Regions from separate parts of the Homo sapiens genome. Here region 2 is linked to region 1. The links come from fine-mapping of genetic effects on gene expression. A gene starts in region 1. The other region holds a variant in brackets. All regions are shown on one strand. Distances are from middle to middle.

The links. PIP is the estimated chance that this variant, and not a neighbour inherited with it, causes the effect. A credible set is the group of variants that fine-mapping cannot tell apart.
Region 2: its variant is the best candidate, but not a certain one, in a credible set for the expression of RIBC1 in whole blood (TOPMed, PIP 0.83).

The regions. Positions count from the first base shown.
Region 1 is chrX:53,421,385-53,424,293 of GRCh38, forward strand. RIBC1 (RIB43A domain with coiled-coils 1) reads left to right here and starts at 1,489. Exons shown (of 8, transcript NM_001031745.5): 1 at 1,489-1,620; 2 at 1,930-2,018. It overlaps SMC1A (structural maintenance of chromosomes 1A), which reads right to left and starts at 1,270. Exons shown (of 25, transcript NM_006306.4): 1 at 1,108-1,270. The coding sequence starts at 1,216. RefSeq lists enhancers at 427-1,401, 518-697, 818-867, 1,058-1,237, 1,402-2,373 and 1 more.
Region 2 is chrX:53,519,933-53,522,841 of GRCh38, forward strand. No RefSeq gene overlaps it. Among named protein-coding and RNA genes, the nearest start is that of MIR98, 35 kb to the right of the region's middle. The variant C/A (reference allele first, on the strand shown) is at 1,425.

The DNA of each region.
Region 1 (2,909 bases):
ATGTCAATAGTGCCACTGTTGAGACACTCAGTCTCCAGGAAAGGTACTCAGTATGTGCTACTTCAGCAAGGGCAGCCTCTTAGGCTAGGATATCATTCAGCTAGAACATCTCTGGGGTGGAAGAATACAGCAGGATTCCAAATGGACATCTGAGGTGAGAGGAATCCACGGTGTATCGTTTAGAGTTGGGAAGACACAAAATAGAGGCTTTACCTGACCACCCTTTCTAAAGACACCACCTAAGTCACTTTATCACATCCACCTGTCTCATTTCCTGTATAGCACTTATGACAGCCTAAAACCATCTTATTTTCTCCTTATCTTCTTTCCCCTCTGGAATATAAGTTCCCTGTGAGCATGGAGTTGGTTTATTCTATTCTCCGCTGTTTCCACAACTTGCAACTGAATAACTCCTGATAAACAATAAGCATTCAACAAATTTGGTAAATTAGTTAATTTCGGCTTTTGACGGTTTCGGTGGTAGGAAAAGGGCGAGTTCGAGGCAACTACCTCTGACATAGCGGTGGGGGGTGGGGATCGACACCTCAAGCATTCTAAAGACTGGAGCGCTGGGTCTGAAATTCAAAAGTGCCGCCTCCAGAGAAGAGTAGAAAGGAGTTGGAGTGTACCAATGCGAGGCGAGAGAGGACGCTGGGCTGAAACAGAAGTGCACCGTTTGGGACCGAAGGCCACGGGAGAGCTACCAGCGTCCCCACATTCTCCGGAGGGGGTCAAGTAAGGCTGGGAAGCCGGCTCCGGCCGGTCCGGCGGGGAGCCGCGCGGCGGAGGACTGAGCTGGCGGGAAGCTGGTTCCAGACGCGACTCCTTTGGCGGGAGGGGGAAGTAGGCGGGGTAACTGGCAGCTCGGCCTGTACCACTGGGCCGGGGCGGGGGCCGCGCAGGAAGCGGCAAGTGACACCTGGAAGGGGTTCGAGTTAGAGCACCCGCGCGGGGAGAGTGGGTTCGAGCAGAACCCCCTCTGGACGGGCAAGGAACCCGTAAGGGTCCGCGACGTTTCAGGTTACATGGGCTGGGTTGTACTACTCCGGCACCGGATAAGGGGTCCAGGCCGGGACGTGCGCAGGGCCGCGGCCAGGTTTATCTCACCAGAGCCATTGGGTCCAATGATGGCGGTGAACCTCTGAAATGGTCCGATAATCTGTCGACCCTTGTACGACTTAAAGTTCTCAATCTCAATCAGTTTCAGGAACCCCATGACGGCCGCGGCGCCGGCGGCAGTAGGACAGGCCGCGCCGTACGCCCGAGAACTGAGGTAGCCCGCGCGGGAAACGCCGCAGTGCAAGCCGGGCGACCGGCAAATGTCGCGAGAATACGTCCAGGCCTAACGGGATTTTCGCCTTCCGGCAGGAGTGGGACCAGGGGCGGGGACTGATGTTGCGTATACGAGGAGCGAGCTGACGACTGGCGTGGTGCCTCCGCCCCCCTTTCTTGTTGCATGGCAACAACAAACACTTGCTCCTGCGGACCAGATCCCCGGAGGAGTTGTTGCTGGGCGGAGTCAGAGCAGTTCTTGAGGTTCAAGGAGGCGGGGGAGACCTGAGCTCACGCTTGCTGAGACAGAAGTCACAGCAGGATTATGCCCCTCAGGGCAAGAGGAAGGTGGGAGCTCGGCTGTGGCTTTAGCCTGGCCAGCTTTCAAGGCTAGGACAAGGACAGGGTCGGGAATTGGAAGGACCCGGGGGGAGCGGAGAGCTGGACGGGAAGGAGGGGCCAACGGGAGGATTCAGTGTTAGGTGAGCTCAGACTTTGCTAATGGTGGGGTGGGATTGGTGGCGGGACGGGTTGCGAAGGCGGACGGGTTGTGAATGGGACTGGGGCTACTCCCAGGCAACAGGGATACAGGCTGGGGAAGGCTACGGCCTGAGATACTACCCCTATCCCCTGCCTCCCTCCTGTTGTACCAAGCAGAGTTCAGAAACTGCCGCCGTAACCCAAGAACAAAGTTGCATGCAGAGCCAACCTAAGAGCTTCAAAATCGGGATTCCTTACTGAGAAAGGTATTTTGTGTGAACCCCCAGGAGTCAGGGTCCCTAAGCCAGCGCTCTCCACCTCCACCTACCTCTGCCTCCATGCCTCTCCCCCATCCCATTCCCACAGCTCTATACCACAATGCCACCTTACCTCTCTTCCCTCTCTGCTCTCTATCATTAATAAGGCAGGGGCCTTAGCAATCCAAGAAGCTTAAAATGTCAGCTGAATCTTCCCCTTCAGTGACCTTATACTGTAATGGCAGGTGAAACCAGTAGGTAAGTTGGTGCCATTCTCAGACTTAAACATGGAAAGGATCTGGTGGTTGCCATAATTATTCCTTTAACTATTTATTAAATTATGTCCGAAGGCTAGAAAGAGTCCTAAAGACTTAGGACAAGTCCAGGAAAGTGAGGAAGTGGCTGGGCATGGTGGCTGACAACTGTAATCCCATCGTGAGGGAGGCAGGCCAAGGCAGGAGGATCACTTGAGACCAGCAGTTCAAGACCAGCCTGGGCAACATAGTGAGACCCTATCTCTACTAAAAATTAAAAAATTAGCTGGGTGTGGCAGCTCTCACCTCTGGTCTACCCAGGATGCCGAAGCAGGAGGATCACTTGAGCCTGGGAGGTTGAGGCTGTAGTGAGTGGTGTCCGCACCACTTCACTCCAGCCTAGGTGACAGAGCAATACCCTGTCTCAAAAATAAATAAAGGGAGGAAGCTTGGTAGATGGAATCTAGTAGGGGAGCCATAAATGAAGTTCAGCTGGGAGAAACAATCAGGCTGAGGGGATAAAATGGCTAAAAGACAGCAATCTCATGTAATCCATGGGGAAATACTGTTCCCTTTTAAAAGATGAGATGGTGAGCCTGGGTAACATAGCAAAACCCAATCTCTACAAAAAAATTTTAAAAATTAG
Region 2 (2,909 bases), 99 kb after region 1:
AATTGCTGTCTACACCTAGATGATCAAGGGCAAGTAGTTAAAGACATAGTTAGAAATATGACAAAACTGGCACATGTGCCTGTGCAAGTGTGGCATGGATTTGATCCTGGGGCCATGTTTGGAAAATGGTTCCCAGCACTAGAAAGATTTAAAACTCTTATAATAGGAGTTATAATAGTAATAGAAACCTGCTTACTGCTCCCTTGTTTGCTACCTGTACTTCTTCAAACAATAAAAAGCTTCATTGCTGCCTTAGTTCACCAAAATGCTTCAGCACAAGTGTACTATATGAATCACTATTGATCTGTCTTGCAAGAAGACATGGGTAGTGACAATGAAAGTGAGAACTCCCACTAATGAGTGAAGTTCTCAAAGTGGGGGAATAAGGGAGGAGACCACCCCTTATATTGTTTTATGACCAATTTCTGCCTCCAAAGACAGAAGAAGTAAAAACTAAAAGCCAGAAATGAAATCCACAGGCAGACAGCCCAGCGCTGCACCCTGGGCCTGCTTAAAGATCGACTCCTGACCTAACCAGTTATGTTATCTATAGATTCCAGACATTGTATGGAAAAGCACTGTGAAAATCTCTGTCCTGTTCTGTTCCGTTCTAATTACTGATGGCATGCAGCCTCCAGTCACATACCCCCTGCTTGCTCAATTGATCACCACCCTCTCACGCGGACCCCCTTAGAGTTGTAAGCCCTTAAGAGGGACAGGAATTGCTCACCTGAGGAGCTCGGTTGTTGGAGACTTGAGTCTTGCCAAAGCTCCCGGCCGAATAAAGCCCTTCCTTCTTTAACTCGGTGTCTGAGGGGTTTTGTCTGTGGCTTGTCCTGCTACACCAGCTACTTGGGAGGTTGAGGCAGGAGAATGGCATGAACCCGGGAGGAGGAGCTTGCAGTGAGCCAAGATCGTGTCACTGCACTGCAGCCTGGGCAACAGAGCAAGACTCTGTCTCAAAAAACCAAACAAACAAAAAACTGTTAGTGGCAGCAAATCCATATGTGTCTGTGGCAATGTTAGATATGAATTCTAAATTTCTCTTCAAAGAATCAATATGTCAGTATGTTCAATTCTTTGCCTTGTACTTTTAAACTTAACTTCCTTGTAAAGCAACCTTTTTTGATTACCTGCTCCACCCTGACTCATTCCGATTACCTGCTCATTCTCCACCCTGACTCATTCCGATTTCCTGCTCTGCCATAACCATTTTTCCTGCCAAACCACTCACCCCATTACTCTCTTTAAATTAGCCAATTGTATTAGTTTAGCCTGTGTGGTCTAACCCTAGCCAATAGGGAAAAGACACAGCAGCAGGGGCCACATGCGTCAGGGATAAGAACCCCTTCCCCTCCCTTGTCCAAGTGTGTGCTCACCATTGCTCCATCTGTAAGGGTGCACCCTTCTATAGAAGTACATTG[C/A]CTTGCTGAGAATTAAAAAGAATATTTTATATTCAAGTGCTGTTTCTTTTGCAGCACTGAAACTTTATTTATAACAGCAACCTCAATTCTTGCCTCCTTGAAGAAAGAATTTGACTGAGGGGTACAAGGCAGAGTGAGAGACTGAGGAAAGTTTTAGAGCAGGACTGAAAGTTTATTAAAAAGCTTTAGAGCAGGAATCAAAAGAAGTAAAGTACATTTGGAAGAGGATGTAGCGGGCAACTTGAGAGATCAAGTGTGCATAGTTTGACCTTTGACTTGGGGTTTTATACATTGGCACGCTTCTGGGATCTTGCATTCCCTCTCCCCTGATTCTTCCCTGGGAGTGGGCGTGAGCATGCATAGCAGCCTGCCGGCGCTTGGGAGAGGAGCATGCACAGTGTGTTTACTGGAGTTGTACGCGTGCTCACTTGAGGCATTCTTCCCTTACCAAATGTCCCTAGAAAGTCATATACATCTTACTGTGCATGCGTGAGTCCACTTGTCAAACTCCTGAGATATTGGGAAGCTGTTGATCACCAGTTTCAGGTTTTTCTATCTATCAGGAGACTGCCTTTCCCTGGCACTGGCTGCAACCAATTATTATTTTAGAGAGATAGTTAACAACCACTTGACCATCACCTGATGGTCACCCGACATTCCTGGTTAGGGGGGAGGGGGCAGGGCCCTCTCCTGCCCTGCTCATGTCTGACTAGCTACCCTACCCTACTGTAACAAAACCACATAGCCTAGAAATATTGAAGACATTAAGAAAAAGGTGTGTCATGAATGCATAAAATACATGTAGATGCTAGTCTGTTTTATCATATACTACCATCAAATATACACAAATCTACCATAAAATGTTAAAATTTATCACAACTTATGGGCCAGGTGCAGTGGTTCATGCCTGTAATCCCAGTACTTTGGGAGGTTGAGGTAGAGGATTGCTTGAGCCCAGGAGTTTGAGACCAGCCTGGACAATGTAGCGAGACTCTGTCTCTACAAAAAATAAAAAATTAGCTGGGCGTAGTTGTGCATGCCTGTAGTCCCAGCTATTCAGGAGGCTGAGGTGAGAGGATCACTTGAGCCTGGGAGGTCAAGGCTGCAGAGAGTGGTGATCAAACCACTGCACTCCAGCCTGGGTGACAGAGCAAGACCCTGTCTCAAAAAAAAAAAAAAAACCCAAAACAAAACATGCACAGAAGCTGGGTGTGGTGGTGCACACCAGTATTCCCAGCTACTTGGGAAGCTGGAAAAAAAAAAACAAAAAAACTGAGGCACACACTTAAAGATTGTACATGGTACCCTTCCCAGTTGAAAGAAATATAAACAAATGTAAAGATGCGGTATTAGATTATAACTGCATAAAACTGTAGTACATGCTGTACTACTGTAATTATTTCATAGCCTGTTGCTATTGTGATGAGCTCAAGTTTTACAAGTATCTGCTTAAAAGGCTGTGTGATGCCAGTCTTCTCCCTGAGC